Linked DNA regions of Homo sapiens. The protein of the gene in region 2 purifies or fractionates together with the protein of the main gene of each other region. This does not show direct contact. Each region holds a gene or a part of one and is shown on either strand. Other genes may lie near its edges. The genes, in order: SLC25A1, TMPO, CAND1 and ARPC1B.

Region 1 (9,528 bases), on a different chromosome or scaffold from region 2:
GCAGTGAGTGGCTGGCATCTCTGGAGGTCAGTATGTGAGGGTGGGGGTCCCCTCCAGGCAGCTGCGAGGGCTTGGCTGCTCCCAGAACTGCCTGGAACCTGGGGAGACTGTAAACAACCTCTTGCAACCCCAAGAATAAAGCTGCCATGTGTGAGGGCTTGCTCTGAGCTAAGCATGATTCTGAGCACCGGCAGGGAGTACAGCAAGTGGATGCTGAGGCCTGGAGGGCAGGCCCCAGAGAGCTGAGTGCCCCTCCAGGTTTCATGGCTGGCACTGTGGACCAGTGTGGCCCACTGCCTGCTTGCCACCCCACAACAAAGCTTCAGAGGTGCAGAACCAGTGGCCTGAGCTCCAGGGACAGGAAGCATCTTGGCGTGGGGTTCTCATGGTGGCACTTGCATGCCCTAGTGCACAGGGGCGGAAGGGGAAGCTCTGTTGCCTGGGCCCTTTCTCTGTGGCAACAGATGGGGAAGTCTGCCGTGAGGATAGAGAGTGCATGGCCATCCCATCACAGCACAGGTTGAGTGCTGAGCCACCCCGAGCCCTCCCCAGCCCAGCGGCTCTCCCCAAGGAGGCTTCAAAACCCCGTGCTCCCTTTGTACCCCCAAGCCCATGCTTGGCTCTCAGATCCACCTCGGGCCCTTTGCACCCCAGACTCCTCCCCAGCTGCACATTCCCGGGATTCCAGGCATCTGGTGCTGTGTGAGGTCACTAGGACAGGGCAGTCTCCCCAGGGACGGGACCTGTTCACATGGAGTTTCTGGCTGGCAAAAGCTTGTTCTCCAGTCTGAGCCAAACGCTTGCATGACTCTTCCCCCACGGAGGCACTTGGACAGGAAGCTGGCTTCTCTGCACAGCCAGGGGCACTAAGTGATCCCATCCTGCCTGAGCGTCCTCCACGTGGCTCATAGGCTGTGGAAAGAGGGGCTTGGCCCCATGGGGACATGCCAGTTCAGAGCTCTGGCCTCCAGCCAGAGGGACACCTTTCTCTGAGGCTCATGGCTGTGGCATGAGGTGCCCAGAGAGCCCTGGTCAGGCAGCCCCACCTCCTGCTGCCCCAGGGCAGCTGCCTCCCAGCCCAGGTGAAGGAACAAGGGAGGGCCCCTGCCCAGAGCCTTTGGGTAGCAGATGCCAGACACCCACCCCCACCTGGAGTTCAGAGGCCTCAACGTGCCCCCATCTCCTCCTCCCCACGAGCAGCCCATTTCACTCACTGAGGAGCTGGGCATACCCCAGAGGGGCCCTGGGCAACCCAACCCTTCCCTAAGCTTCCCTGTGGGTGAGGGGCAGGCAGTCGTCCTGGGGGCTCCATCTCCTGGGCCCAGCCCCCTGCTCTGAACACTCTGCCAGGCCACCCCTAGGCCTTGTCAACACACCCTTTTACCCATGCCACGGGATCTTGCCCAGAGGCCACAGGGAAGGCCAGGGTGCACCCAGATCCTTCTTGGCCTGGCGCTGGGCTTCTCAGGGAGCCAACACTGTGGCCACAGCTGCTCTGCCCTGGGTGGACACTAGGCTTTCCCTGTCCCCCTACTGCAGTGTCCTCAGATGGGGGTGGCCTGGTCCCCTGCAGAGGCACAGCCACCAATGCCCATGCATAGATGGGTCCATACAGGGACGAACACAGGACAGGAGGCTGCAACAGGATCCGGTTTATTCTGCCTTGGCAGGGTGGTCCTGAGAGTGGTGGGTGCCACCCTGTCCGGGGCGGAGAGAGGGCCCGAGGGCCAGTTAAGGCCAATGGCGGGAGAAGCAGGGGGCTGCAGCCCCTGGAATGCGGTGAAGCCAGGCCGAGGCCCGGAGGCAGCTGTGGTAGGCCAGGGCAGGGTGGAAGGCACCGGACTGGGACCGGGCCAGGGCTACAGGGCCGAGGACCCAGGCCACACGGGCACCCCGGGAGGCGGGGCACAGGGTCACGTGACACAGAACATGAAACACAGGCACAGGGTCATAGGCCAGATGCACATCCAGCCATGGCTGGGCCAGACACTGGGACACAGTGGTGGTGTCACACACAGACCACAGGGGGGACACATGGATTTGACAGCCACAATGCACAGACCAGGCTACAGAGCTCGAGGGACGTGGGAAGGGGCCTTTTGGCACTACTGCACTGGAATCGTGAGACAAAGGTAGCAGGACACTCTGGCGGTGCCTGGGGCGGTCCCCTTGCGGCCTCTCTAGGCTTAGTCCGTCTTCCACACTTTGTTGAGCAGCTTCACCACTTCATCATAGATGACAAACACTATGGCCACATCCAGGCAGACCCGGCCCAGGCGGGGGACAGTGCCCTTGTAGAATCTGGGTGGGAGGAGGGGCGGGGAGAGGAAGGCAGGTCAGCACAGTGTCCCTGCACAGGGCAATCCCCAGATACTGAAGTGAGAGGCACAGAGGCCTGAAGGGGACAGAGTGGGCAGGCCAGGTAGGCCGGGAAAGGTTTGAGGTGGGGACAATAGCCCTGCCCCTCCCCCACTCACGCCTTGAGCCCCTCCTTCTTCAGGATCTGCAAGCCGCAGTCCCACGTGTTCCGGTATTTGTGCGCCTCCAGGCCCTATGGGGGACATCAGCAGGCAGGGGCTCAGCAGCTAGCTCTGGCCTGGTCCCCCCTTCCCCTCCCCTTCCCGGCCCCACCACCTGCATCCGGGTCTTAATCACATCCAGAGGAGTGTTTCCAAAGACACTGGCTGCGCCTGCAATAGCTCCGAAGACCCCAGTGATCAGAGGGTTCATGGGCTTGTTGGGGTTGTCCCCTGGATATAGGAGGGGTGAGGTGGGTCAGAGGGTGCCGGGAGGGGCCTGGATCAGCACTTCAAAAGGTGGGTGCCCGCCACCCAGGGGTGGCCCCAAGGAGAGGAGAGGAGCTGGCCATGTGCAGAGATGGGGCCCTGTGATGCAGACACACCTCGGTACCAGTTGCGCAGGGAGGTCATGACGAAGAAGCGGATGGCCTGGTTCGAGCCCTGCTTCAGGACAGTGGCTGTGAGGCCCTGGTACGTCCCCTTCAGCCCTGCGGGAAGGCAGGCACGGGGTTACCCTGCAGCCTCTCAGGCCCCGGTTGGGAATTGGTGTGTGTGGGGGGTGGGTGTTGCACAAAGCCCAAGGCAGGATGGGAGGTGCAGGCCCTTCCCACCCTGGCCCAGGTCCCTGAGCCCTATCAGGAAGGTCGAGTGGCTCACCTTGTTCCCGCACAATCTCCCTAACCCCGTGGAAGAATCCTCTGTACTTGGGGTTTGGGGAGGTCTGGTCGTGGATGAACTTCACCTGAGAGAGAGAAGCAAAGGCGCAGGTTCTCGGCTGCCACCTGGGTGGGTCCTGGCTAGCTGGCAGGCCCAGGGCCCATCCAGGGTGGAGGGAACTGGGAACTCTTCCCCAGGAAGCAGTGCAGCCAAGGCCGCCCTGGGCTGCCCACACGGACCATGCCCCGGGACACAGGGCAGCCCACACGGACCATGCTCTGGGACACAGGGCAGCCCTGTGAGCAGCCTCTCCCTTTATGTTTGCTGCTCTTTTCCAGTTTTGGCAGTGAAGGTGTCATTTTGTTTTCTGCTTTATAAAAGTATTTTTTAAAGACTTTAAGGCTGCCTTTAGCATAGACTCAGCCTCCACGGGTGGCCCTTCGTGGCAGGCGTCCTGCCCCAGGGCCCCGCGGTCACCCCGCCGGCCTTCCCTGGCGTCCAGGAGACCCTCCCCAGCTTGCCGGTTGCCCCGGGAGCACCGGGCCAGCGGGGCCGCCCGTCTCCGTACTCCCTGCGTGTCCGGGGTCCTCGCCAGGACCTTCCCCACCTTGATGGTCTCCATGGGGCACACGACCACCACGGCCTCGGCCACGCCAGCGCCCAGGCCGCACAGCAGCCCACGCGTGCTGTCCAGCCGTCCCTGGGCATCCCGCATGTGGTTGCTGAGGAACTCGAACATTCCAAACCTGGAGGCGGGAGGCGGGTGAGAGGGGCTGCCGCGGCCGAGCCCCCCTCCCGCAGCAGCCACCGGCCGGGCCTCACCTGACGGCCGCCTTGGGGATGGAACCGTAGAGCAGGGAGCTAAGGCCGCGGTACAGGCCCAGGACGCCATGGCTGCGAACCGTCTGCCGCACGCAGTCCCCTGGGGGAGGGGGCGGTCAGGACCCCACGGCCCTCGGTGCCGCCGCCCTGGGTACCCGCCCCCCGCGGCGCCGCGGCCTCCCCCTCCTCACCGATGCCCCGGTACCGCGGCGGGTGCGAGCGCTCGTCCAGCTGCAGCTGCGTCTTCACGTACTCGGTGGGGAAGGTGATGCAGATCTCGATGCCACCCGCCAGGCCGCCTGCAGGGACCGGGAACCCGCTCCTGAGACTCCCGCCCGGCCGCTGGCGCTCGGGCCCCTCCCCCGTCCCGGACTTCGGTCGGCGCGGCCGCCGCGCCAGTGCCGCGGGGAACATAGGCTGGGGCCCCACGCCCCCATGCCCTCACCCCGTTGTCCCGGCGAGGCGCAGGGGGTGACAGACGGGAGGCGGGCGAGTCCCAGCGCGCCGGGTGGGGACCAGGACCGCGCCTCCACGACTCCCCAGCCCACGGCCCAACCCGGAAGTGGGGCGGGGCCTCAGCGTCCCGGGCCCACCCAGAAGCGCGGCGGGAGAGGGGTCCGCGTCCCGGAGGGGCCCACCTGCCAGGATCGCCTTCCCCGGGTGCGTCAGCTTGGCCTTCCCGGACGCGGGCGCGGCGGCCGCCAGAGCGCGCGGGGCGCGGGGCGCGGGCATGGCGGGCGGGAGGCGGGGCGCCCTGTGGCGGCTTCGGGTCCGAGACTCCAGAACTCCGCGCTCGGTCCGCGGTGGCGGCGGCGGCCGGTTATGGTCCCAGGGGCGGGGCGGCCGCGTCAGCTCCAGGTCCCGCCCCGCGTGGTCCGAGCCAGGCCCCGCCCCCAGCCCGCCCCGTGCGGGCCGGGAAACTGAGGCCTGGGCGGGGCGCGCCGAGGCAGGCGTAGGGGCGGGGCCAAAGCGCAGCCAATGGCCGAGGCCGAGTCCCTGGGCGACCGCGAGCGGCGGGACGGGGGCGGGGCTGCGGGAGGCGGAGCCGTGGCCCAGCTCCGAGCAGTGGGTCAAGGTGCACTGTGTGCCGCGCCGCGGGATAGCGGGCCTCGGGTCTGCGCGACTGTCGAGAGCGGCGGGATCCCCAGGGATCCCGGAGGCCAGGGGCACACCCTCCCCGAAAACACGTGGGGCTAGCCCAGTCCCAGAGGAACTCTAACGTTTCAAACCTGGAGGCGGGAGGCGGGAGGCCGGTGAGAAGGGGCTACGCCGCCGGGCCCCCCTCCCGCAGCAGCCACGGGCCGGGCCTCACCTGCCGGTTCCCACCCACACCTTTCCCGGTTGTAGTTTCTGCGCTCAGCGAACAAGGTCAGGAAAGACCACAAATGCAAGCGGCTGTATTCTCCTAGGCAGCTTGTCTGGGCAACGGAGGTCCCACACCCCAAAGAGGACCCAGCAAATCTTTAATGGACTGCGGGGCCTAGGAAACTGGCCCGTCCCTCCTACCCATACCAGCACCAAGCAGAGCACCTTTGCCTGGATAAACCGACTTTAATATTTATGATTGCCAAGAGGCTGAGAGTCCTTTTATGAGGTCCGGTACCTCCAAACAAGACGTGTTCATGTAGTCTTCAAACTGGCCTGGAGGGGGCAGCTCCAGCCAGTCGGAGGCGCCCAGGAGGAAGGCCTGGCTCCAGCAGGAGGGCCCACAGTCCAGTCTCTGTTGTCGGCTAAAGCTGGTCTTGCGCCGTCAGCCTCTACCCTGGCCTCCCCAGGCTCTGGGATGGCTCAGAGGTTGCCGTCATTGGGTTTCAGCAAAAATAAATATTGTCCAGGTGTCCCTGCCTCCCATTGCGTCCCCTGTGCTGCTGGAGTGACATGCTCCTTGGAGAAGTTAGTAACTCTGCAGGTAGGGTGGGTGGTGACAACGCCCACTACACGCGGAAGTTGTACATTGGAGGCTGGCGAAGTTGGGAGCAGAGGCATATCCATAGGGGAAGCTGGCAGGGGCTGGGCCCACGGCAGGGCCTGCAGAGGGGGAAGCCCACAATGAGCAGAGCTCTTCCTGCCCATGGGGGTCCTCTCCTGGCTGCCCCTGAGTAGCCCGGGGCCCAGGGAGCAGGGTCTATAGGACCAGCCCTTACCACCCAGACGCTGAGGCCCCAAGAGAGCAGGCATCCAGAGGCAAGGAGCGTGGGGTCAGCCAGAGAACCTGGCCTGGCTAGAGGATAAGCTAGTCTCCAAATGGGACACTTACTTAGTGCAATCAGCTGGGTCTCATTCATGCCCATCAAAATCTAAAAAAACCAGAATGACATTAATGGTGGAAGGACACACTCAGCCGGACGCTGGAGACCCGCCGGCGTGCTGCACACTCACACCACACCCTCAGGCCTGTGTTTGCCCCACAGTGTCCAAGCACCCCACAGCCTCTCCAGTCTGCTCGACAGCCAGGCTGCCCTGGGCAGGTTCTCAGGTGCAAAGCCCCTCCCAGCACACACCAGCAGCAGCCTTGCTGTCCAGGGGCCAGGCCCAGCAGGACACAGCAGTAGTTCACAGCTAGGCAGGCACCCCTATCAGAAGGCAGGCATCCTTACAGCAGGGAGGACAGCGGCCGTGCCAACATTCCTGGGCGTACACTTCTCCACACCCAGTAGCCACTGGGATCCTTCCAGCCCCCACCCATCTATTCCCATCCCCATCCAAAGCCCAGCCAGGTAAGGGCAGTGGGACTTTGACTCCCTCCCTGCTCCCTCCCCAGGGGGTTGGGGGCTACAGGTGCCACCTACCAAACACGAGAGGGGCAGGCTCTGTCACATGCTCCTCTTGCTTGCGCAGACTCTCCAAGGCATCCAGTTTGTCCACCTGCAAGGAGGCAAAAGCACGTGAGCACCCGCTTGACAGAGTGCAGTCCGGCCTCTAGGTGAAAGTGGAGTGGAAGGTCAGGACACAGGGCCTCCAGGAGAATGACAGTGGAGGAGGTGCACATGGGCAGATGTGGAGTGGCTCAGCCCACACCCCATGCACTTTTAGAATGCAGCAAGGCATGGAGAGGTGAAGCCTCGGTAGCTGGGCTGAGATGGAACGCCAGGTGGGGCCCCCAGAGCTTCCCAGTGGGCACTGGGGCAGTCAGTTGTTACAGGCTGTGCATGTGGCCTGCTTATGGGGGGCCAAGTCCTCCTCTGGATACAGGGACACTGCCACTTACCGACCTGCAGGGCTGGGGCCATGTGCAGGGAACACTGTCTGCTTCTGGCTCTGGCCAGTCTAGTTTGCCCGCCCCTCCAAACCAGCAGAGAGATCATGTGGCTCTCAGAGACAAGTCACCTGGCACCTAGACACTTCACCTGAGAAGCACTGAGGACAAACTGCCTCCTCACTCTTCCCTGAGGCTTCACCAGGCACTGACCCCACCCACTGCCAGAGAGCGAGGCGGCAGCACTGCACTAGAGGGGCGGCAGCAACTGTGCAGCTAGGATCCCCTCACAAACACACTGAGTAAGAAAGAGAAATAAGAATGTGCCCCCCATGAGCTGGGGTCTGGGGGGGGCTGAGAAATGAGGAGGAAGCAGGGGGCACACTTGCTGACACCTAGGGTGAGGGCTGAGCTAGGCCTGTACCCTCCCTACAATGGGAGAGCGCTGGGGGCGTCTCAGAGGGATGGCCCTCAAGCTTCCCAGATGAGCCACGAGGCCCCAGGCCCAGCTGTCCACCAGGAAAGGACTGTGCTTCTTGTCCGCGCCCTCATTCTCCCAGCACTGCTGTGTGGTGTCAGCTGAGCACCAGCTCAAGCTGACAATCAGCTCACACCCCCATGCCACTGACTGGGAAACCCCTTGCCAGCCCCCTCCTCTCCTTGAACTCTCCCCATGACAGGCGTCTCATCTGCCCCAGCAGGAATAGGTGGGTGGCAGCAGAGAAGGTGCTCCAGCAGCCACCACCTCCCAGGGCCAGTGGAGTCTGGGAACCCTGGGCCAAGGCTGTGCAGCCACAGTGTGGACCAACGTGATAGTGGCTGCTAACTCCATCATCCGCAACAGAAAGGGAATGTGCGCCTCAAAGTCCTGGGGGATCCCCACAAGCACTTTGACCCCCACAGCAATGACACTCCCTAGGGCCTGGTGAGCCTGAGTTCCTCTGACACTAACCCACGGGCCTCTACTGCCAGGAAGAGATTCAAGCACTTTCTTTCCTTGTGCTGGTTCTCAGAACACAGACTACTTTCAGGAAAGACACCCGAGGGATGGGAAAACCTGCTCATCATGGTGACAGCAGCTTCCACAGGCACGCACCAGACACCGCACACCACACACTGCATACCACAAACCACATACCACACGTGCCGCCTGTAGGGAGTTGCCATCCACTGTGGTGGGGGAACCAGGGCCCTTGTCAATCCAACCAGTCCATGTCCCCTGGCAGCCCACGAATCTCAGGCCACGTAGCCAGGGCTGTCCCTTCCTCCCCAACCCTTGAGAGTCATCAGGGAGTCTCACTCAGGCATGCTATGCAGATGGGATGGGGTCACACTGTCCTACAGGAGGGCAACGGCCTTGAATGGACTCTGGGATGGCCTTTATCAGGGGCTGGGCAGCCCCCTGGAGGCTCTGCAGGCGGCAGGCAGCCCTCCAGGCTAAAGCTGGCAGCATGAGCCCGCCTTCCTGTTTCCTTCCTACCTCCCACTCACCTGGGAGGCCCCTCCCTTCCCTCGCTCCACTGAGTGATGCTTCAGCATGAGTGCCTTCCGAGGCTCTCCATCTGGCTTGAAGGAGGTTAGATAGGCAAGTAGATGCTACTGGAAGTAGCTTTTCCAGTGTTAGAAACAACAAACTGTACCAGATGACACTGCTGACACAGGTCTCTGGACAGTGGCTAAAGCTAGATCCCAGCAGGGACTCCTAGGACTTCAACACCCAGGGAGAGTTTTACAATCAAGTACTGTCACTTCGATGAGGCAGAGAGTCATCCTCCCTATAGCTGTTAGAAGGATTCAGTGGATCTGTGAATACTCCTACTATGTGTTCAGCAAAAGGCAGCTACCACCAACCGTATGCTAACAGCTGCACCCCCAGACGCCACTGGGAGCTCCTCAGGGAGCTGGGATTGCCAGCCACCTCACTGTCACCTTGTTGAAGTCCAGGGCTGGGGATGAGCACGCCTGTTGTGCTCCTAGCAGTGTGCACATTGGGACAGCTGCCCAGCCAGAGTCTACAGGAGGGCTGCTGCCAGTGGGCACTCCCCATGATGATTTTCTGGAGGGGCTTAACGTTGGGCAGAAAACCACTTCAGCATGAAGGAAAGCAGCCACTCCTGAAGGCAGCCAGGGCTGGCTGGGGAATCTGGGTTGGCCTCAAAGGGGCCCACCCTTAAGACCTGCGGCCAGAGTCACTGCCAGGGTTGGGTCATGCCACACAGGGGCCGGGGAGCTGCAGCCGGCCCGGCACCTACCTTGCTCAGGTACTCCCTCATCACCTGGATGAAGTAGGGCATGGCCAAGTCCACGAGGTTGTGCCTCCAGGCCAGCTCAAGC
Region 2 (8,793 bases):
TGATCAATTCTCTTCTGTATGTTTTCTACATCCAGTGGGGGCATAGAGTTAGAAGTTCCAGGCAAACTACCTACCCCACCCTGGACCAACAGAGAATTGACATAATCTCTGATTGCCTGGGCAAGTGGCGGAGAAATTAGTTGTGAGCTCTCAGACTCTTCTAGTGCTTTCCTTTTACTGGAGAGAGGCGATTGATCTGAAATATGGGACCTCTCAGGACATAATGGTTGAATTCCACTTTTCTCTCTACCGCAAATATTTTCTACTATGTCTTTATAGTAACCAGTGGTGGTTTCTTTAATCAGTGAAGGAGAAGCTGCAGTAGAGACCAACATGGCACTGTGTTCAGGCTGAGAAGATGACGAAGAACTTTTCTCTAAACACCTATCATGGCTAGACTTGCATGAAATAAACAAATTCCTTTCAGAGGCTAACTTCTGCAACTGTCCCCTGCCAGGCAAGTTTGTGGCAACAAGAGGCTCCCTAGGTAGGTCTCCCTTAGAAGTATGTACTTTCTTAGCTGCCTGTAGTTCGGTACTGCCCAAAGGAGGACGGGTGGAGATTTCAGGAAAAGAAATACCCTGAAAAAATCCACCACCAGAGGGAGTAGTTCCAAGTTCAGAAAAAGGAACAATATCCCTAGTGGACTTCACTTTCTTGTGTTCTTTCTTCTTTCCTGTAGAGGCAAAAGAGGCAGGAAGTTTAAGCATTACCTGTGTTTGAGCTGATTTTATTCTTTGCCTCTTTGCTAAAAATAGTGCTGTCAAAGGAAAAGACTATAATTTCATATTCTGAACTAATCTGCCAGATTTGCCCTGGTAGACAAAGCTTATTGAGATATAAACAATCTGGATCAAAATAAATAATCACAAGTCATATTAATTAAAAGTTTACAAAAATCAAGTTGTATTTATAATTTTTAAAGGACATTTATTTCACATACTATCCTTAAAAAATATTTAAACATCATGATCAAATTTTAAGATACTATACAGTCTACTAAAAATATAGTCAAAATATTTGCTTTAAAGTTGCCCTGAGGTCAGATTAACAAAAACTGCGAACAATTTAAATGCCTATCAATAGAGAACAGAGAAAATATGCCATATTTAAATGCTACCACTATGTATTAATTATGAAGAATAAACAGATATGTAATTAACAGGATTAGATTTCAAAAATAATGGAGTAAGAAAAAGCAAGTGATAAGATTTAGCATACTGTTTATATAAATTTTTTATTCTTAAAGTATAAAATAATACCATGTATTAGACAGATGTGTATGTGAAATATAAAACTTGAAAGACAGGCATTGAATTAATAATAGTAGTTACTTCTGTGGAGGTGATAGGTACAGGTAAGTACGAGAAACTTTGCCTTTACTTGTAATACTTTATTCTCTCAGAAAAATGAGATTTGTAGCAAAAAAGACAAAGTTAACTTGCAATTTCAGGTGATGGAAAATTATGAATTTGTACTATGTTGCTTCTTAGAATTTTCAATAAAAAGTATTTAAATCAAATTACAGAATTACTCTAATGACACGAATAAAATTTGTGTATCTTGCCAATATTGTTTTAAATTTTACTTTCTTCATGGTCACTGAATTTTGAGTGTGAAAAAATTCCATACATTTGATTAACATCATTTAAAATTTTACCTTCTTCATTGTCACTGTATCTGTCAGAATCATTACTTCCATTCTGCCTTGTATTTTCTGCTGAAGAAGAAATTGTTGGCAGAGGAGTAGAAGATCTTGATTCTGTTCCTTGTTCCCTCAGTTTCAAAAGCTTTTTCTCATATAGCTTCCTGGTTGTTCCTGGATTAAGGCAGAACTTGCTTTAGTACCTGTATTGTTTCATTTAGGATGCAGCTCAGACACTATCTTCAGCAACATTTTAAGCTATTTTCACCCTTTATTTTTCTAAACTCAAGTTCTTAAAAAAAAAAATACCATATAATGCGGCCAGACATAGTGGCTCACGACTGTAAACCCACCACTTTGGGAGGCTGAGGCGGGTACATTACTTGAGGTCAGGAGTTCGAGACCAGCCTGGCCAACACAGGGAAACTATCTCTACTAAAAATACAAAAATTAGCCGGGCATGGTGGCACACGCCTGTGATCCCAGCTACTTGGGAGGCTGAGACAGGAGAATCACTTGAAATTGGAAGGCAGAGGTTGCAGTGAGCTGAGATCGCACCACTGTCCAGCTGGGAGAGGAAGTAAGATGCTGTCTTAAAAAAAAAAAAAAAAAAAAAAAGGACGTGGTGGCTGATGCCTGTAATCCCAGCACCTCCAGAGGCCAAGGCGGGTGGATCACCTAAGGTCAGCAGTTCAAGACAAGCCTGACCAACATGGTGAAACCCAGTCTCTACCACAAATACAAAAAATTAGCTGGGCCTGGTGGTGGGCGCCTGTAATCCCAGCCACTCAGGAAGCTGAGGCAGGAGAACTGAACCCAGGAGATGGAGGTTGCGGTGAGCTGATATCGCACCATTGCATTCCACACAACTATATAATGCACTCTTTTTACAACAGGTGGTTTTTTGGGAAATGACATTTCTTTTAATAGCATGAAATACATAGTAGGTTAATACAGGCCTTTCTATAGACCATCTACTGAAAAGCCATGTATGACTATTTTTGACTGAAGTCTTGCATTTATTTTCTCTACTACTACGTAATAGTACTTGCCAAGGTAGAAAAATCACATGTAAGCGGATTGTACCTCTATGAAAAATAACTATGATTAAATTTCCACAACTCTAAGACATTAATATGCCTGTATTCAGTTATGGGGAAAAGAAAAGTTCTATAAATCAGATTTAAATATAACAACTTTGCAGTTAAAATGACCTTTTATGGAAAACACATATCACAAAGCAAAATTGATTACAAATTCTTAATACATTTGAACATCAGTGACAGTTTAAAACCAAAATAGATTTTGTTTTACATTAACTGTATTATCTTTCCTTAACTCCTGGTAAGATGAGCAAAATGATAATGGATATTTTTTAGAAGCAACATGTGTCCAGAAATGTTATATAAATAGCCTTAAGATGAACAGGTCATACATCAACATATAATTTAATGTAGGCTGATATTATAACACACATTTTTCAGTGTCTCCCTTTTGGAATTTCTTTTTTTTTTTTTGAGACAAGGTCTTGCTCTGTTGCCCAGGCTGCACTGCAGTGGTGCGATCATAGCTCACTGCAACCCTGAACTTGTGGGCTTAAGCAATCCTCCCACCTTTGCCTCCTGAGTAGCTAGGACTACAAGTGTGCACTACATGCCTGGCTACTTTTTTTTTTTTAAATAGAGACAAGGTTTCACTATGTTGTCCAGGCTGCTCTTCAACTCCTGAACTCAAGCAATTCCACCACCTTGGCCTCCCAAAGTGTTGGGATTACAGGCATGAACTACCATGCCCAGGCCTTTTAGAACTTTAAACAAAAACATTTTTTAAAAGTGTTATATATCTGTTGGTACTTGTATATGAATAAGCTTATGATTATTTGGAAGCAGCTTATACATTAAAACAAAATATTCTAAATCTTTATTTGCAACTATACCTATAGCAAAACCTACCAAATCTCTAGCGTCCACAATTTTAGGTAACTTAGAAGATCAAGACCAGATGCAGTGACTCATGCCTGTAATCCTAGGACTTAGGGAGGCCTAAGTGGGAGGACTGCTTGAGCCCAGGAGTTCAAGACCACCCTGGGCAATATAGTGTGCCCCCATCCCTACAAAAACTACAAAAATTAGCCGGGAATGGTGGCACGTGCCTGTGTTCCCAGCTACTTGAGAGGCTGAGGTGGGACTGCTTGAGCCTAAGCTGAGGCTGCAGTAAGCCATGACTGTGCCACTGCACTCCAGCGTGGACAACAGAGCAAAGACCTTGTCAAAAAAAAAAATAATAATAAAATGGAATTTTCTCATCTTGAGGTTATTGCTAAGACCCTCCAAAACTAAGGCATAATCAACACTGCAAAATCTTCATCACCTAAAAGTAATCCAACGATGGAAATCCAGTGTATTTAGTCCTAGGTTTTTGTTTTTTAAGGGTATAATTCCTCAATTCCAATCAAGATAGGACTTTCAAAAGGGTACTTTTAATGATAAATGAAAAAGGGGCTCAGCGCGGTGGCTCACACCTGTAATCCCAGCACTTTGGGAGCCTGAGGTGGGTGGGATCACCTGAGGTCGGGAGTTTCAGACCAGCCTGGCCAACATGGCAAAACCCCATCTCTACTAAAAATATAAAAATTAGCCGGGCATGGTGGCAGGTGCCTGTAATCCCAGCTATTCGGGAAGCTGAGGCTGGAGAACTGCTTGAACCTGGGAGGCAGAGGTTGCAGTGAGCCAAGATCACACCATTGTACTCTAGCCTGGGCAACAAGAGCGAAACCCCGTCTCAAAAAAAAAAAAAAAATAGGGTACTAGGCTAGGAATTTAATAACTTCATTAAGAAGAAGTCTGTCACTAACTCACTTTTTCTTTTTCCCTTATTTATTTATTTTTTTTGAGACAGGGTCTTGCTCCACTGCCCCTGGCTGAAGTACAGTAGCCATCACGGCTCACTGCAACTTTGACTTCCCCCCACCATCTCAAGCAATCCTCCTGCCTCAGCCTCCTAAGTAGCTGGGACAATAGATTTGTGACACCACACCCTGCTAATTTTAAAATTTTCTGCAGAGATGGGATCTCCCTATGTTGCTCATGCTGTTCTTCAACTCCTGGGCACAAGCAATCCTCCCATCTTGGCCTCCCAAAGTGTTGGGATTACAGGTGTGAGCTACTGCGCCCGGCCATTAACTCATTTATTTGGGCAAATTTGCCCAGCTATGTTACCTCAGATTTTCCTCAATTGTCATACAAGACCCACGTCTCAGCAGAAGTACGATATAAGTGGCCAGGCACGGTGGCTCACACCTGTAATCCCAGCACTTTGGGAGGCCGAGGCAGGCGGATCACAAGGTCAGAAGATCGAGACCATCCTTGCTAACACGGTGAAATCCCATCTCTACTGAAAAATACAAAAAATTAGCCAGGCGTGGCAGCGGGCGCCTGTAGTCCCAGCTACTCAGGAGGCTGAGGCAGGAGAATGGCATGAACCCGGGAGGCAGAGCTTGCAGGGAGCCGAGATCGCGTCACTGCACTACAGCCTGGGCGACAGAGCAAGACTCCGTCTCAAAAAAACAAAAAACAAAACAAAACCAAAAAAAAAAAAAAAAAGTACGATATAAGCACCATATAAAACAATCTCAACAATAGAGGTAATTTTGGAGATTATCTAATTCAATCCTCTCATTTTATTTCACTCATTTACAGTCAAAGAAACACAGGTTCTGCTGATAACAAATGATTAATGACAAACCAGTCCTTGGAACCTAAACTGCTAAACAAAAAGGAGAAAATAATTTGGGGTCCTGCTTCAGAGAAAAGATACTGTATTTGAAATTTTATCAACTTACCCACAATAGGACCAGGATTCACTCCGTATTTCACAAGCTGATCCAAAAGATCTTCATTAGTGAGCTCTGTTACATCTAGATCATCTTTATCTTCTTGTCTGGGTTTATCAGTTTTTTTTGTGGCTTTCTGTAAACAAAGTCCAGTAATCATTTCCATATGAATTAAAGTGTTCACTTACTAGATAATAACCTGTATAACATAAACATGCAAACTCACTACCAAATTGGTTTATAGTAATATTAGGCCTTAGCAATTCCATTAAATTAAGAGCAACTCATTATTGGAGAACACTTTCTAAGTTGAACTGTAATCATACAAACCGCACAGCCAAGCAAGTAACTTAAAGACATTGTTGTTAAAATAGTCCATTTTGGATTACCTATCTAAAAGAGATAGTAATGGCATCAAAAATGCAAAAGAGCAACTAAAAGTAAAACTGACTTTGGGTAACATTTTCTTTTAAATAACCTTTTTTTTTTTTTTTTTAATGATACAGGGTCTAGCTATGTCACCCGGGCTGGAGTACAGTGGCTCCATCTCAGTTCACTGCAACCCCCACCTCCCAGGCTGAAGCGATCCTCCCACCTCAGTCTCCCAAATAGCTGGGACTACAGGTGCGCACCACCACCCTTGGCTTTTTGCCTGTGGTTTTTTTTTTTTGTTTTTTTTTTTTTTTGTAGAGATGGGGTTTTTGCCATGTTGCCCAGGCTGGTCTCAAACTCCTGGACTCAAGTGATCAGCCCACCTTGGCCTCCCAAAGTGTTAGGATTACAGTTGTAAACCACTGCACACAGCCTAAATAACCAAAAATTATATTTCATTTCTTAAAGCATATAACTCCAATGGCAACGGAAACAGATCAGCATGAACCATGGAAAGTAAAGCCAGACTGGGCTTAACATTTTTCATCTAAATGATCATGAATGCTACTTACTAACTTTTTGATAATCCTTAAAAATTTAAATTAATCCAGGAAAGTTTAAGACTTTACCATACAGGCTTACACTTAGATACATATATAGAAATGATTTTCTTTTCTTTTTCTTTTTTTTTTGGAGGTGGAGTCTCGCTCTGTTGCCAGGCTGGAGCGCAGCGGTGCAATCTTGGCTCACTGCAACCTCCGACTCCCGGGTTCAAGCGATTCTCCTGCCTCAGCCTCCCGAGTAGCTGAGAGTACAGGTGTGCGCCACCACGCCCAGCTAATTTTTGTACTTTTAGTAGAGACGGGGTTTCAACATGTTGGCCAGAATGGTCTCGATCTCTTGACCTCGTTATCTGCCCACCTCAGCCTCCCAAAGTGCTGGGATTACAGGCATGAGCCACTGCGCCCGGCCAGAAATGATTTTCTTTAAACAGCATATGAGAACTTAAGAAGGCCAAATGAATACAGTTGGCTCTCCATTCTCCCAAATGAATACAGTTGGGTTCTACATATGTGAATTCAACCAACCACAGATCAAAAATACTTGGGGAAAAAAAAGACAATACGACAATAAAAACACTAACAAAAATACAGTATAACAACTATTTACATAGCACTTACATTGTATTAGGCGTTATAAGTAATCTAGAGATGATCTGAAGTATAAGGGAGGATGTGTGTAGGTTACTACACCACTTTATATTAAGGGACTTACTAAAGCATCCCCAGAGTTTGATATCCATGGCCGGGTCCTGGAACCAATCTCCACCCCAAGGATAGGAGACAGGACTGTAAACTCCTTGTAACACAGTTATTTTAGTAGCTAGTTTATGACTTAGGAAGGAAATCTGACAGACTTCATGGTTAAATTATCACCTGTGACACAGTTTAGTCACCAGATTAACTTCTGTACCACCAGTTTACTAAAAATAGTCAAAATAACTTGAAACAAACTTTGAGGGAAAATTTGAAAGTTTTAAAATTAATTTCTACAAAGGCAGTATTTACTGGAAAAACTATAAATTTCCAAGGTTGAACAAATAAAAAGGAAGCAAAAGTACGGATACCTTTTAAGGCTGTGGCAAACAGCCTGACAAATGCCTCAGTGATCACAGAAAAAACATCAGAGTACTGAACAAAAAAATGGCTAATTAAACAATGGCAACATCAAAGTAAATTTTACGAAAAAGGCTAAAATTATCAAGTTGTATGGAATGCTCACTTTCCAATAATATTAGGGGGAAAAATCAGTCATGATTTGACTATGTACTGGAATTACTGTTTTTAACAATAAAAATGTTCTGACCTAGAATTGTCAGGCTCAAATCAAATCTTTTTTTTTTTTTTTTTTGAGACTGTGCCTCACTCTTATCCAGGCTGGAGTGCAGTGGCGCAATCTTGGCTCACTGCAACCTCTGCATCCAAGGTCCAAGTGATTCTCCTGCCTCAGCCTCCTGAGTAGCTGGGATTACAGGTGTGCACCACCACGCCCGGCTAATTTTTGTATTTTTAGTAGAGACGGGGTTTCAGCATGTTGGCCAGGCTGGTCTTGAACTCCTGACCCCAAATGTTATGCCCGCCTGAGCCTCCCAAAGTCCTAGGATTACGGGCGTGAGCCATGGAACCTGGCCTGAAATACTTCAAATAAAGCAAGATATGAGAAATTCTTTTTAAAAAGCTGCTAATGGCTAATCATTCTATAATCAGAAGCCAAAAAACCTTCACCAAAAAAATAGCTGCTCATAAGAACAATTATGTCAACTTACGAGAAATCTTAAATAGACGGCTGTGGAGAGTTACAGTGAGAGTACTTTTAGCAGGCTTTAATTCACATACATTGCACTGACCTAGAACTGTCAGGCTCATATCTGGAAGCAACCCACACCATAATATCCAAATAGTTGCCTAGGGTCTAAGAGTTCTAAGACTTATTTCTTTCAAGAAAAGATTTAATCAAACAAACTTAATCCTATGTTACTGACTTACTCAAATTTTCCAAAAAGTGCAGTCAGGTAGTACAGAAAAACTAAATAATGCTTAAAATAAAAATAAAACATGGAAAAACAATCAATCAGGTTCAAATTATTTGTACATAATCCCCACTACCACGAGAATGTTCAAATTTACTATCAATAAAACATCCAGGAAATTCCAACTTTTCAAACCCGCCTGAGAGGTTTTCAAGAAATCTCTTTGGGCCAGGTGCAGTGGCTCATGCCTGTAATCCCAGCACTTTGGGAGACCAAGGTGGGTGGATCACTTGAAGTCAGGAGTTCGAGACCAGCATGGCCAACACGGTGAAACCCCGTCTCTTTTAAAAATGCAAAAATTAGCCGGGTGTGGTGGCACATGCCTGTAATCCCAGCTACCTGGGAAGCTGAGGC
Region 3 (8,793 bases), about 31 Mb from region 2:
CTGACAAAGTTTTACACTACATGCAAGTAGGTATTATGGTAAAAACCACAATTACTTTTGCACCAACCTAATAGTTTAATTCTTACCACGTTCTGTAAAACTGCTTATTTTTAAAAAAGCTTATATTTGCATTAGGGCAATACAAGATCAGTTAAGCACGTACTTTTAAAAAATGGACACAGCTCTCCTAATTGGAAGCCCCTCACCCATTTTATAATGTGACAAAACAAAATTAAAACTACATGACTAATTTTCATTAATATTCTGGAAAGTGGAAAAATTGCATAACACATTAATGCAGGCACTCCTGCACACAAAGTACTGAAAAAATCTTAACTGTTTTACTTAAACAAAATCCATTAAATAACCATAATAGTTATGACCTCTAAGAACCACTGCAGTGCCAGTTACCTGCTTCCAGAGAAAACAGGGATCATCAATTTAAGTAGAAAAACATAATCCCAAGTAAAAAGTTGTTTTATGGTCCTGTATGGTTCTACCGGCACAAATTCATTCTTTACTTATTGTTTATTTATTCACTGTCTATTATGTAAGAAACTCTGGACTAAGAAATCAGGACAGATAAAAGTTGAATACACTTTGGCCCCCCTAACATCAAGAAGCTTACTTATATTGTAATAAAGAAGCCTACTGATTTTCAAAAATCTATGATTAATGGTTAAATATTTTAAAAAGTTGAAATGAGCACTATCAAAATTAGCAATAGATATTTTTAAAAAGCAGAAAAAGTAGATTATTATAATACCAAGAGTTGCTTTTAAATGGTGACCCTGAAATCACAAAGTTCTGGGAATAATTTATTCCTTCTATAAATGTGGTATTAAAAATTTACACTATTAATCTTATTAAGGAAGCTGTTTGACCAGTTTGAAAGCTGTCCATGGCATGTCCATGTCTCTTCAGCATTTACTCTTTTAGGTATGGTGCTAAGGGCACAGATCTCAATACATTTTATAAAACACTACTCAAGAGCATATGGAAATTATCACACCCAAGAGTTGACTGTTAGGTTGGATCTCAAAGGATGAACAGGGGTTTGCATGGGAAAAATTGGTTTGGAATTTAAATTACTTTTTTTTTTTTTTTTGGTGGTGGGGAAGGACAGAGCACCTCAGAGTGAAGGACTAAGGAAACAGTTCAGTATGTGGAGCACAGAAACCTAATAGGAAGATGATGGGAATATAGGCTGAGGTCAAAATGGGAATGGCGTTATATACTCATACACTGTGTAATAAGAACCTACTACATATCAGGTACTGTACTAGTTTTTGCTGATATAAGGGCTAACCAAAGCACACACAATTCTTGCTGTCTTGGAGCTTACATTGCAGTCTAGTAAAAGGCATATTAACTTTTTAAATTGCATGTATGAGTAAGCACCTGTAGAACTAAGAACTAAGATAAATGCTATGAAGGAAAGTGTTATCAAGAAAACACTATGGGGCCAGGTGCCAGTGGCTCACGCCTGTAATCCCAGCACTTTGGGAGGCCAAGGCAGGCAGATCTCCTGAGGTCAGGAGTTCGACACCAGCCTGGCCAACATGGTGAAACCCTGTCTCTACTAAAATTACAAAAATTAGCTGGGTGTGGTGGTGTACACCTGTAATCTCACCTACTTGGGAGGCTAAGGCAGGAGAATCGCTTGAACCTGGGACACAGAGGTTGCAGTGAGCCGAGATTGAGCCACTGCACTACAGCCTAGGTGACAGAGTGAGATTCATCCCAAAACAAGAAAGCACTATCATATAAACAAAGTAACATGACCTAGACTGAACTGCGGGTTGTGTCAGGAAAGACTGATCTGAAGAGTAGGAGCTGGGCATGGTGGCTCACACCTGTAATCCCAGCACTTTGGGAGACCTAGGCAGGTGGAGGTCAGGAGTTCCAAACCAGCCTGGACAACATGGTGAAACCCCGTCTCTACCAAAAATACAAAATTAGCCAGGCATGGTAGTACATGCCTGTAATCCCACCTATTTGGGAGGCTGAGGCAGGGGAAATGCTTGAACCTGGGCGGCAGTCGCTTGAAGCCGGGCAGTGGAGGTTGCAGTGAGTCAAGATCACGTCACTGCACCCCAGCCTGAGCAAAAGAGTGACACTCTGTCTCAAAAATAAATAAAGAGTAGGCAAAATTACGGTGAAGCAGGAGGAAGTTAGTGCCAGGTAAGCAAGGGCCAGGAATTTAAAGGATTTGTAGACCATATCAGGATTTTAGCCTTTATTCTAAGAGAGTGGGAAGCTACTGAAAAACAACTGGGTTACAGATGGGGAATAAATGCAATGATCAGATTTACATTTCAGAAACATTACTCCAGCTATACTGTGGACCATACTTTGGAGAGAACAAATCTTCATTTGGCCATACTGAATGGAGACTAGTTAGGAGAATGACTAAGTTAGAAATTATGATGGCCTGACTTAGGTTATGGCAATCAATGAAGATGGAAAAAAAAATGACATACAGTTGATTCTCATTATTCCCAGGTTCCATATTTGCAAATTCACCTACTCATTAACATTTATTTGTAAAGCAAAATTAATGCTTCCTATTTCACAGTCATTTGGATGAGTGTCGAGTGGTGAAAATTTTGAGTAATCCAACACATACATTCCCAGCTGTGGTGGCACAAAGCAACACTCTGCCTTCTAGCTCCAGCTCTCATGTTGTAAACAAGCATCTTCTTCTTGGCCTATTTCAGCCCATGTTTTTCACATGTTTGTGCTTTTTCTTGGCGCTCTTGTTGTTTAATATGGCCTCCAAGCACAGTGCTGAAATGCTGTCTAGCATTCCTAAGTGCAAGAAGGCTATAATGTGCCTTCTGAAAAAAACATATGTGTTAGATAAGCTTCTTTATTGGCTGTGAATTCAATGTTAATAAATCAGCAATATATATTAAGACAACTTTAAAAGAAACACTCATAAAACGAGGTTACAAACTCATCAACTGATTAAAATAATGTGACTCAGGACTCAGAGAAACTAATTCCATAATTCCCTCAGAAGCAATGGTTCAGTACTTGCTAACTCAGTGTTTGTGATAATGTTACAAAACATACTACAAATAATGAGAACTAGTTGGTTTGAATTTTACAAACTAAAATTAATAGTTCTTCAAAATGGATTAGATATAGGGATGGTAAGGATGAGCTAGCAGGAAAGAAGTAAAAGGAAAACCACAAGACTGGGTAATACAGTCAGCTAACATATCCTTGTCCAGAGTCTTAATGTTACCCTGCAGCCATTGTCACATCAGATGAATAAACTGCTCATCTTACAACAGAAGAAAGGATTAACTTTGGTTAAACTGCAAACTACATGGAATGGATATTCCTCTGATCTTAACAAAATCTCCGCCATAGTGAAGATGTGAAAATCAAAAATTAATGTCCTGCAGCCCAACTTTGTCTACCCTTGGCCAAAAGTGGGCACTGATAAAGAAAAAAACAGCAGCCTCCACATTCCAGAAACTTATCTGAGACTCATAACTAAACCTCAGTGTTATTACTAACCGATCTGATGCTTAACAGCTAAGGCATATTGTTTTCTTGGACATAAACAATCTCACAGAACATCCATTTCGGACAAGGTCCCTGAGCAATACAAAATACCAAACATTCCCCTCTCCAGTTAAATGAGTGACTGATACTTCTTTACCAACTACAGCTTTCCCCCTGCTTAGGTCAGCCCTCCCTGTAAAATTTATTAAGAGGCCGAATCATAGAATTGACCTCACTTTCTGACAACACTCAACCTAAAGCAAGGCTTCACTTCCTTAGACTCTTTCCCAAATTACCCAAATGAATAGGTTCCTTCTAACATCCTCTGATACCCTAAAGTGTGTGTTTTCCCTGACTATTACGGACAAAAACCCAACTCGTGTCAGGATGCCCATATAAGAGAATTCCAAGAAGGAAAAAGTGATTTAAAAAAATATACCAAATAGATGAGCAAAGAAAATATCCACTAAATGAGTTATATTAGGAGACTAGGGAGACTGTTGGGGATTTTAGGAGAGCAGTCTCTACGAATTCAGATGGGCAACAGCTAAGAAATCTGGAGTTTATCTTGTAGTCAATGGAAATTAGTGAGGGAGGCAATGATCAGCTGCAGTATATAGGAAGAAAATTCTAATGGCCAGAGGGAACAAACTGGGTTAGGAAGAGGCCTGAGACAGCAAGATTAATTTGAGAAATACTCATCAGGAGACTAAAGAAGACAGACGGGAGAAGGGTGATATCAAAGATTTTCTGCTTGTGACTTTCAGTGGATGGTAATTTAACAGGCCAAAATAAGGATAAAGAAGGCATTAAGACGGGAAAAGAAAAAGATAAATGTTTACGTTTCAGACTTCAATGGAATTCCCAGGTTGATATGACCTGTAGGCAGTGCCATCTCATTCCTTTATTCAACAAGTATTTTGAGGGCACCAACATAAGGAACTCTACTCTGCAAACACAGTGATGAGTAACACAGTCTGGAACTTACACTAGGTATGCACTAGATCGATAGATACCTTGCACTCACAATAACTCTCACCACAGCCTCTCCCATCATACATAAACACAATTTTACTCTTGCTTCCAACCAGAAATCTAGTTGATATGGTCAATTTTATCACTCAGTACACCAATTACCTTTCAGAGATCCTGCACATACACCACTGCTATTTCACTTTTCCTCAGTTATTCCTTAGAGTGCTATGAATTAAGTTGGAACAGTTTTTTTTTTTTTCTTTTTGAGACAGTCTCCCTCTGTCACCCAGGCCACAGTGCAGTGGTGCAATCTCTGCTCACGCAACCTCTGCCTCGCAGGTTCAAGCAATTCTGCTGCCTCAGCCTCGCGAGTAGCTGGGATTACAGGTATGCACCACCATGCCCGGCTAATTTTTGTATTTTTAGTAGAGATGGGGTTTCACCATGTTGTCCAGGCTGGTCATGAACTCCTGACCTCAGATGATCTGCCTGCCTTGGCCTCCCAAAGTGCTGGAATTACAGTCGTGAGCCACCACACAAGACCTAAATTGGAATAGTCTTAATATTGTTCATGTAAAGAAATCTAATTTTTACTAATCTTTCTTCCCAGTTTTCTCTGTGAGGTCCCTTCCTCCTCTTTCTCAGTGGTGAGCCCTAATCACTGCTGATAACCAGTTAGCATAGTATATATCAAGAAAAAAACATCAAAGTAAAATCAAGAAAGTTACTGCCATCAACCTTCTAAGTATTTTTAAAAGTGCCCAGAAATCACCTTCTTAATCTCTGCAAATCTATTTCTTCTGATTAAACCTGCTTTTCTCCAAGCACAAGTACTTAAGATAATTTCACTATTTCCTGTTATGTTATTGTAAATGCCCACCCACACTGTACTTTCAGCTATATGATAGGATCTCTAAGGTTCCTTCCAGCTCTGAAAACCTGATTCCTTAAAAGGCTTGAGTTTTTTTTACAAGCATTTTAAACAGTTTCCAAAAGAAAATACCGTCCAATATCCAAAACACTTAAATAAATAAATCTGGTAATATAAACCTTTATCAAATTGGGAAAAACTTGCATTCCAAAATGGGGTGAATTATTTTAAGAAGATTCTATCAAGTGGTATTTAAACAAACAGTTTAGTTGATTTTACAATGGTTTTCTGGAGGTTCCTAAAATCCCTATATAATGGAAATAAAACCCAATTCTACTTAAACAAGCACCTACTGAGAACCCACATGGCCCAGAGCCAGACAAAGAGAACGATTCCGTTTAGTAAGACAAGGTCCCTATTCTTAAGGAGTTCTGTGGACAATATCCATCCAGCTACAGTCAGGTTATCTATTCCCTCTTCCCCAGTGAAGTTTTGTATCGTGTGCTTTACATTTTCACTTTCTATCTAGAGTTTCATTTTCAACACCTGGCTCAAATCTCTCCATGGACATGAATCTTCTTGCTTTAATATTCTCTGCCACTTAATGCCTGACAATTACATATTGCCCTGGGTTATTCATCTTTTTACAATAGTGTCTTAACTATTCAACAAGCATGTAGATTTAGGGAAAGTAAGCACCAGATCTTAAACTTTTTGTAGTCCTCAGGAATTATTAAAAGCATCTTCTAGCATGAAATATTCTATAAGCCTAATTTTAGAGGGAAATGAAATTTAAGGCCTGAATCTTAACATCCACTAGTCTAAACCCTGGAGAAGTGACATAGCTGGGTGGTCAAGAGTTCATGTTCTGGGGGTAAAGAGATCCTATAAGTCCCAGACCTACTATCTAACTGACCTTAAACAAGTACTTAATCTCTCCAAATCTCAGTTTCTTCAACTGTAAACGAGATTATTATTATCCTCTTTTACTAAAGTTGTAAGGATAAACAAAAATCAAGCTCACAGTAAGCATTAATATTAACTATTATATATAGAAAGATAATGATATTTTCTTTAGCTCTTGATTCCTTGGAATATTTTAAATCAACTGGTGGTTGAAGAATATGAAAATAAAAGAAGTGGCTGGGCACAGTGGCTCAAGCCTGTAATCCCAGCACTTTGGGAGGCCAAGGTGGGCAGATTGCCGGAAATCAAGAGTTTGAGACCAGCCTGGGAAACATGGTGATACCCATCTCTATAAAAAAAATTAGCTGAGTGTGGTGGTGCGCACCTGTAGTCCCAGCTACTCTGGGGGCTGAGGTGGGAAGAAAATCGCTTGAGCCCAGGAGGTTGAAGCTGCAGTGAGTTGAGGTGGTGCCACTGCACTCCAGCGTGGGTGACAGAGCGAGACCCTATCTCTAAAAAAAAAAAAAAAAAAGAAAAGAACTTAGTTACCTCAACCTACCAAATATTCAATATTAATATTCACAAATGGAGTGTCACATGGTTCATCCACATTAAAGCTTTCACTCTGGTATCAACCGAATCCCCTATCTATTGGCTACATTATAAGGTTTACTCTTTATTCCTTTATGGAACATGCATCCCTAGAGGTCCTTAAAATAACTATATACACTGGTACAAATGTTTTCTGGCAAAAAGTCTCAGTACACTCCAGAAGTGTTTCTTTTAGGGAGGAAGTGATGAGAAGCACTGTTCTAAGGTACTGTCCCAAGGAATGTTTCTTCATTTTTCTTCTGAAGGTTTTATTTGAATTGGCATTCATTAATAACTTTTCACTAAACCGAGGCTAGTAAGTAACAGGCACTATCCTAGTAATTAAGACACACAAATGCCTCCTCCTTTTTTTAATAAAAGAGCTCCTAGTCTCCTTTTTTTAAAACAAACAAACAAAAAACCCTGCATGGGTGGATGCGGTGCTGGCCTGTAATCCCAGCACTCTGGGAGGCCCAGGCGGGTGGATCACGAGGTTAGAAGATCGAGACCATGCTGGCGAACATGGTGAAACCCCGTCTTGACTAAAATACAAAAAATTAGCCAGGCGTGGTGGTGTGTGCCTGTAATCCCAGCTACTTGGGAGGCTGAGGCAAGGGAGTTGCTTGAACCTGGGAGGCGGAGGTTGAAGTGAGCTGAGATGGCGCCCCTGCACTACAGCCTGGCGACAGAAAAGACTCCATCTCAAAAAAACAAACAAAAAAAACCAAAACAACAACAACAACAAAAACCCTGCATATGGCAGAGTTCCTAATCTCAGCATTTCTCATCCTAATGCTTCCCCATTTCTCCTAAGTCTTAATATCTCATTTTTAAATAATGCACAATACTAAAACACAAAAGAAATATTACAATTTTTCAATAAATTGAGCCTTAATAGTCCTACAAAAAGATTCTTTTAAAATGCAGAAATTTCCAAATTTTTAAGCCTGCATTCATTTCTTTACCTTCTCTGTATTAATGAACTATGTAATTATATAAATAGACCTGAAATTTTATGCCTATAACAACCTTTTGTAATTAGTCATGTCCATGCCTCTCAGAAGTGAAAATGTAATCTCAAATTAAATAGCTTGCATAAGATCTTACAGTTCATAACAAAGAATCACACATGATTAGAACCCAGATCTTGTGACTAGGTCAAATTCTCTTTGGATTCTACCATGAGGATAATAAAATTTGCTCTTCATTTTGGCAGCATTTGTTTCTTCTCTCGTCCTTAGTACAGGCAGAGTGCTTTGCACATGTTGGTCATTCCATAATGTTAACCTTGCCCTCAAGATCCTTCTAGTGCTAGGTATTTTTAAAATATGTAGCCACAAATCTTGGTATTTAAGCCAAAATAAATAAACTTCTAATGAGAACAAGGCATCATTTTTTTAAAAAAGAGCAAATTAAAATAAATGCCTATACTAAAAATATGCAGAAAAAATTTCAAAATTCTTGACTCCAAACGCTCACTAATTAATTATTAAATGTCTGTTTAAACTAAACATATAAAGTGCTTTAGTTCCAAAGACTTGTTTATTAACTAGATGGCTACAGCGCATTATAAAAATGTTTTTTAGAAGACAGTTGATAAAAATATCTTAATGATGCCAAATTACTGGAAATCACGTACTGCTCCTAAATATACCTTGTTTAGCATTCACCAACTATTAGGAATATATCAATATTACACTAATCCTCCAGGAATTGTTTTGATTCAGTACAACCAAAATTCATACATAATCTTTACCAAATTCAGCAGTGACTGTCATTTAGTATCAGAGCACTATTTCTTTCATGTAATTTATTTAAGAAAAAAACAACTAGGTATGTACATGTTATCTTTCTTTCACAGGAAATTTAAGAAAGCAAGCTTCAGTCAATAATCACATGTATGGTATCACCACATAATTTCTTTAGCCTTT
Region 4 (3,806 bases), on a different chromosome or scaffold from region 2:
TAACCAGGCTTGGTGGTGTATGCCTGTAATCCCAGCTACTTGGGAGGCTGAGGCAGGAGAATCGCTTGATCCCAGGAAGGCAGAGGTGGCAGTGAGCTGAGAACGCACAACTGCACTCCAGCCTGGGTGACGAGCAAAACTCCATCTCAAAACAAAAGTTCCACAACCAGCCTGGAGTGTGTAGCCCCTTTGTCCAGGAATTTGACTAGTCAATCAGTGACACCTGGTACTGGCAGTTTTGGGAGTGGCAGCCCAGGATGGACAGCAGTGGGGAGGGAACCATTTGGCATAAGGCCGTTGGGCTTCAGGATCAATTTTGTTGGCAAGCAGTAAAAATAAGCTATCTACCTATGGCCGTGCAAACACCAATCTCTCCCTGGAGTCCCAGCTACTTGGGAGGCTGAGGCAGAAGGATTGCTCCCACGAGTTCTAGTGCAGCCTGGAAAACTTAGCAAGACCCCAAGGAAATAACAAAAAACCTCTCCTTCCACATAGGCAAGCATGTCCATAATTACTTTTTTTTTTTTTTTTTTTTTTACACAGTTGCATTTTATTACCTCCACATTTTGAAGCAGTTCATGACCAGCATAGTGCTTTGGGGGCATTTTTTTTTTTTTTCAATAAATGAAAGCATTTAAGAAAAAGGCACGTATTCCTTGAATAGGTAAGAAAAGCTCCCCATCTGTCCCCTCCCTTTTTGAGGGAGCAGCCCCTATGGGAACTCGTATTGGTACCCCAGAAACATTCAGCAAAGCAACCATTAGCCTCCCTGACCCCTCTCCCCGCTTCCCCAGCAGCTAGGATGAAGGCAACATATTCCTCACAGGTCATTTGATCTTGAGGTCCTTCAAGGCTGACTCCAAGCTCTGCAGGGAGGCAGAACGGACAGGCTGGTTCTCAGCTGTCCTGCAGGCACCCCACTCCCAGGGACCTGATCACCCATCTCAGCCCCAGCACAGCAGAGGGCAGAGAACCTGCAGTTTTGGAGTCTGTCAGCTGGGTTGGAATCCCGGCCCTGAAGACGGGTGCCCCAGTGAGCACCAAGGCCCAGATGTCAAGGGGCCGCCCCCACCCCTCATCCCCATGCAGTGCCATCTCTGCAGGAGTGAAGGATGGGGGTCATCTCCAGGGAGTGGGGATGGGGGGAAAGGGTTGACCTGGGAGGCATGGCGGGAAGCCAGGAGGGGCAAGCCTCACCTTCACATCCCAGATACTCATGCCGCCATCCATGCCAGTGGTGCAGAACTGCGAGCACTTGGCCTTGCCGCCGCTGAGCACCGAGATCTGGCTGCAAAGAGGAAGAGGAGCTTATGAATTCAACCTGTGCTGGCGCTGGGCTCAGGCCCACCCTGTCCACCAGGCGCTCCCAGACTTCTTGGGGAGCGGGCTTTAGTGAGAAGTACCGAGGGGGTGTAGTGGGCTTAGAAGTCAGTTCTGCCTTGGGGACAGTGGCATGCGAGGTGCAGGCAAATGGGACAGGACACTCAAGTCCTGGGAGGCAGGAAAGACACGTGTGTCTGCGGAGTGTACACAGTGCCAGCAGTGCAGCTGGACAGGACAAAAAAGGAGATGGGGGTGGGGGCAGCCAGGGACTAAGCTGATAGCTGGACAAAGGTGTTTCATCTGAGGAAGCCATCGGATCTGGCGGACACAGGAGGTTTTACAGACCGAAGGGCTTGGCCAGTCTTGCCATACAGCTCCCGCTCCCTCTGATTCGCCGCGGGGTGGACACGTGTGGCTGGCAGCTTTTGGGCTTTGAAGAGCCTCTTCCCCATCCCACCCTAGATCCATAGAAGGCTGCGGAGAGACCCTCAGCTCCGCCCCCACCTCGCTAAGTGCTAGCAATAGACCCGCCCCAGCTGTGACCCCGCCCAGGAAGCCCGCTGGTCACTGCCTGGCCACCCCAGAGAACCGTAGGGGCCAGCCCTACGACAGTCCCCACCTAAGTCCCGGAAATGCAGAGCGAGGCTAGCTGCTCAGCCCCATCTGATGCTATTTTTATGCAACCTAAAGAGGTCGACCCCGTCTTATGTCGGTCGCACCGTGTCCCTCCCAGGCTCCACTAGCACCTGGGCTGCTATGGTGAGATCAAGATGGGCCCCGCCCACAACTAACGATGTTATTCCGCAGCGAGTCAAAGCCACTCCCTACCCTGGGCCCGCTACGCGACCTCTGCCGGCCTCCGCCCCACGCGGTTTTAGTACGGCGCCAAGGCCCCGCCCACAAATCGGCCCCGTCCCCTCGTGTCCGGGCCCGCCGCTCATCAGACGCCGTTCCGGCGCAGCGAGTTGAGGGCACGCCTACCCTCCCTCCGGGTCCCCAGTCCTCAAGGTCCCAGCACAATGCCCCAGGAGGAAGACTCCAGGCCCCTTCCTCACCCGACGCTGTTTCTGGGCGAGCCGAGGCCCCGCCCACCCGCCGGCCCGGCTCCCGCTCTCACCTGACGCTGTTCTTGTGCAGCGAGTCTAGGCCCGCGCCCGCAGCCGTGCCACCCTCGGAGCTCGCCTTCTTGTCCAGGTTCTGGAAGCGCTCGCGGGCCGTCAAGCCACGCTGCGAGCTCTGCTTAGGAACGTCCAGCCGCCCGCCGAAGCTCAGCATCCCCGCGGCGGCGTCATAGGTGAACAGCACCGGGAAGCAGTCGTGGCCCTGCGCGGAGGGCGGGGGCCATTGGAGCGCCGCGGAGGGGAAACCGAGGCCGGAGGGAAGGCCAGGCGGGCGTCTGGCCGCCCGGGAGGCAGATGCCAGCTCAAGGATACAGACGGGCCACAGCGAGGGAGGCCCGAATTGCAGGTGTATCAAAACCGGGGGTGATGCTGGGGGCTGCCACCTCCCCCAGCAAGGCCAGCGTTGGGACTCCCTGGGAGCTCAGGCGCCTTCTGTCCTGCCCAGCCAGTTACACCTGCTCTAGGGGAGACCCCTGCAGCTGTTTGCTTTTCTAGGCAAAAAGCAAGCCTGACCTGGCCCTGGCACCCCCATTATGTTTGCAGAGGGGTGAAAAGGGACTTGACAGATGTGGGCGGAGGGGAGGGAGAGCAGTGCCCTTCCTGGACACCTGGAGGAACCGCACACCCCGAACTCTCGCCCTTTGCATTAGGCGTGGCCTTGCCATTGCACCTGCCAATAAAATGTGGGCAGAAATGTTAAGACCCAGGGCATGATTCCGCAGGTTCCGGCTCCCTCGTGGCATCTGGGACAGCATGCTGGGGACAGCTTCCATCAGAGCACCTCACAACACCCACACTGGACATAAAATGTGAGCAAGAAGTAAATATCTTTTTTTTTCTGTTTTTGAGATGGAGTCTCGGTGGCTCACCCTTGGCTCACTGCAACTTCTGCCTCTGGGTTCAAGCAATTCTCCTGCCTCAGCCTCCCGAGCAGCTGGGACCATGGGCGCCCACCACCACACCCGGCTAATTTTTGTATTTTTAGTAGAGATGGGGTTTTGCCATGTTGGCCAGGTTGGTCTTGAACCCCTGACCTCAGGTGATCTGCCCTCCTTGGCCTCCCAAATTGCTGGGATTACAGGTGTGAGCCACCGGGCCTGGCTCTTTTTTTTTTTTTTTTGAGACAGGTTTTGTGTCGCCGAGGCTGAAGTGCAGAGGTACGACCATAGCTCAGTTCAGAAGCCTCGACCTCCCATGCTTAAGTTATCCTCCTGCCTCAGCCTCCCAAGTAACTGGGATTATGAGATTACAGGTGCACCACCACACCCAGCTAATTTCTTAACTTTTTGTAGAGACAAGGGTCTCACACTGTGTTGCCCGGGCTGGTCTCAAACTCGTGGCCTCCAGTGATACTTCCACCTC

The links.
Region 1: the proteins of TMPO (region 2) and SLC25A1 purify together in Homo sapiens (affinity purification with mass spectrometry; 2 studies listed by BioGRID). This does not show direct contact.
Region 3: the proteins of TMPO (region 2) and CAND1 purify together in Homo sapiens (affinity purification with mass spectrometry; 2 studies listed by BioGRID). This does not show direct contact.
Region 4: the proteins of TMPO (region 2) and ARPC1B purify together in Homo sapiens (affinity purification with mass spectrometry; 2 studies listed by BioGRID). This does not show direct contact.

Annotation. Positions count from the first base shown.
Region 1 is NC_000022.11:19,173,944-19,183,471, forward strand, and holds SLC25A1 (tricarboxylate transport protein, mitochondrial isoform a precursor), read right to left. Parts: upstream 4,794-9,528; 5' UTR 4,731-4,793; coding exon 4,637-4,730; intron 4,563-4,636; exon of another isoform or gene 4,413-4,562; coding exon of another isoform or gene 4,298-4,412; coding exon 4,190-4,297; intron 4,099-4,189; coding exon 3,999-4,098; intron 3,923-3,998; coding exon 3,784-3,922; intron 3,262-3,783; coding exon 3,177-3,261; intron 3,008-3,176; coding exon 2,903-3,007; intron 2,751-2,902; coding exon 2,635-2,750; intron 2,552-2,634; coding exon 2,478-2,551; intron 2,302-2,477; coding exon 2,187-2,301; 3' UTR 1,638-2,186; downstream 1-1,637. Other genes in the region: CLTCL1 (clathrin heavy chain 2), read right to left, coding at 6,276-6,295, 6,788-6,863, 9,447-9,528. UniProt on the Homo sapiens protein: Mitochondrial electroneutral antiporter that exports citrate from the mitochondria into the cytosol in exchange for malate.
Region 2 is NC_000012.12:98,524,706-98,533,498, reverse strand, and holds part of TMPO (thymopoietin), read right to left. Parts: intron 5,614-8,793; coding exon 5,487-5,613; intron 1,820-5,486; coding exon 1,661-1,819; intron 677-1,660; coding exon of another isoform or gene 1-676. UniProt on the Homo sapiens protein: May help direct the assembly of the nuclear lamina and thereby help maintain the structural organization of the nuclear envelope. Possible receptor for attachment of lamin filaments to the inner nuclear membrane.
Region 3 is NC_000012.12:67,271,490-67,280,282, reverse strand, and holds part of CAND1 (cullin-associated NEDD8-dissociated protein 1), read right to left. Parts: intron 6,784-8,793; exon of another isoform or gene 6,657-6,783; intron 1-6,656. UniProt on the Homo sapiens protein: Key assembly factor of SCF (SKP1-CUL1-F-box protein) E3 ubiquitin ligase complexes that promotes the exchange of the substrate-recognition F-box subunit in SCF complexes, thereby playing a key role in the cellular repertoire of SCF complexes.
Region 4 is NC_000007.14:99,391,511-99,395,316, reverse strand, and holds the end of ARPC1B (actin-related protein 2/3 complex subunit 1B), read right to left. Parts: intron 2,647-3,806; coding exon 2,441-2,646; intron 1,289-2,440; coding exon 1,198-1,288; intron 867-1,197; coding exon 828-866; 3' UTR 501-827; downstream 1-500. UniProt on the Homo sapiens protein: Component of the Arp2/3 complex, a multiprotein complex that mediates actin polymerization upon stimulation by nucleation-promoting factor (NPF).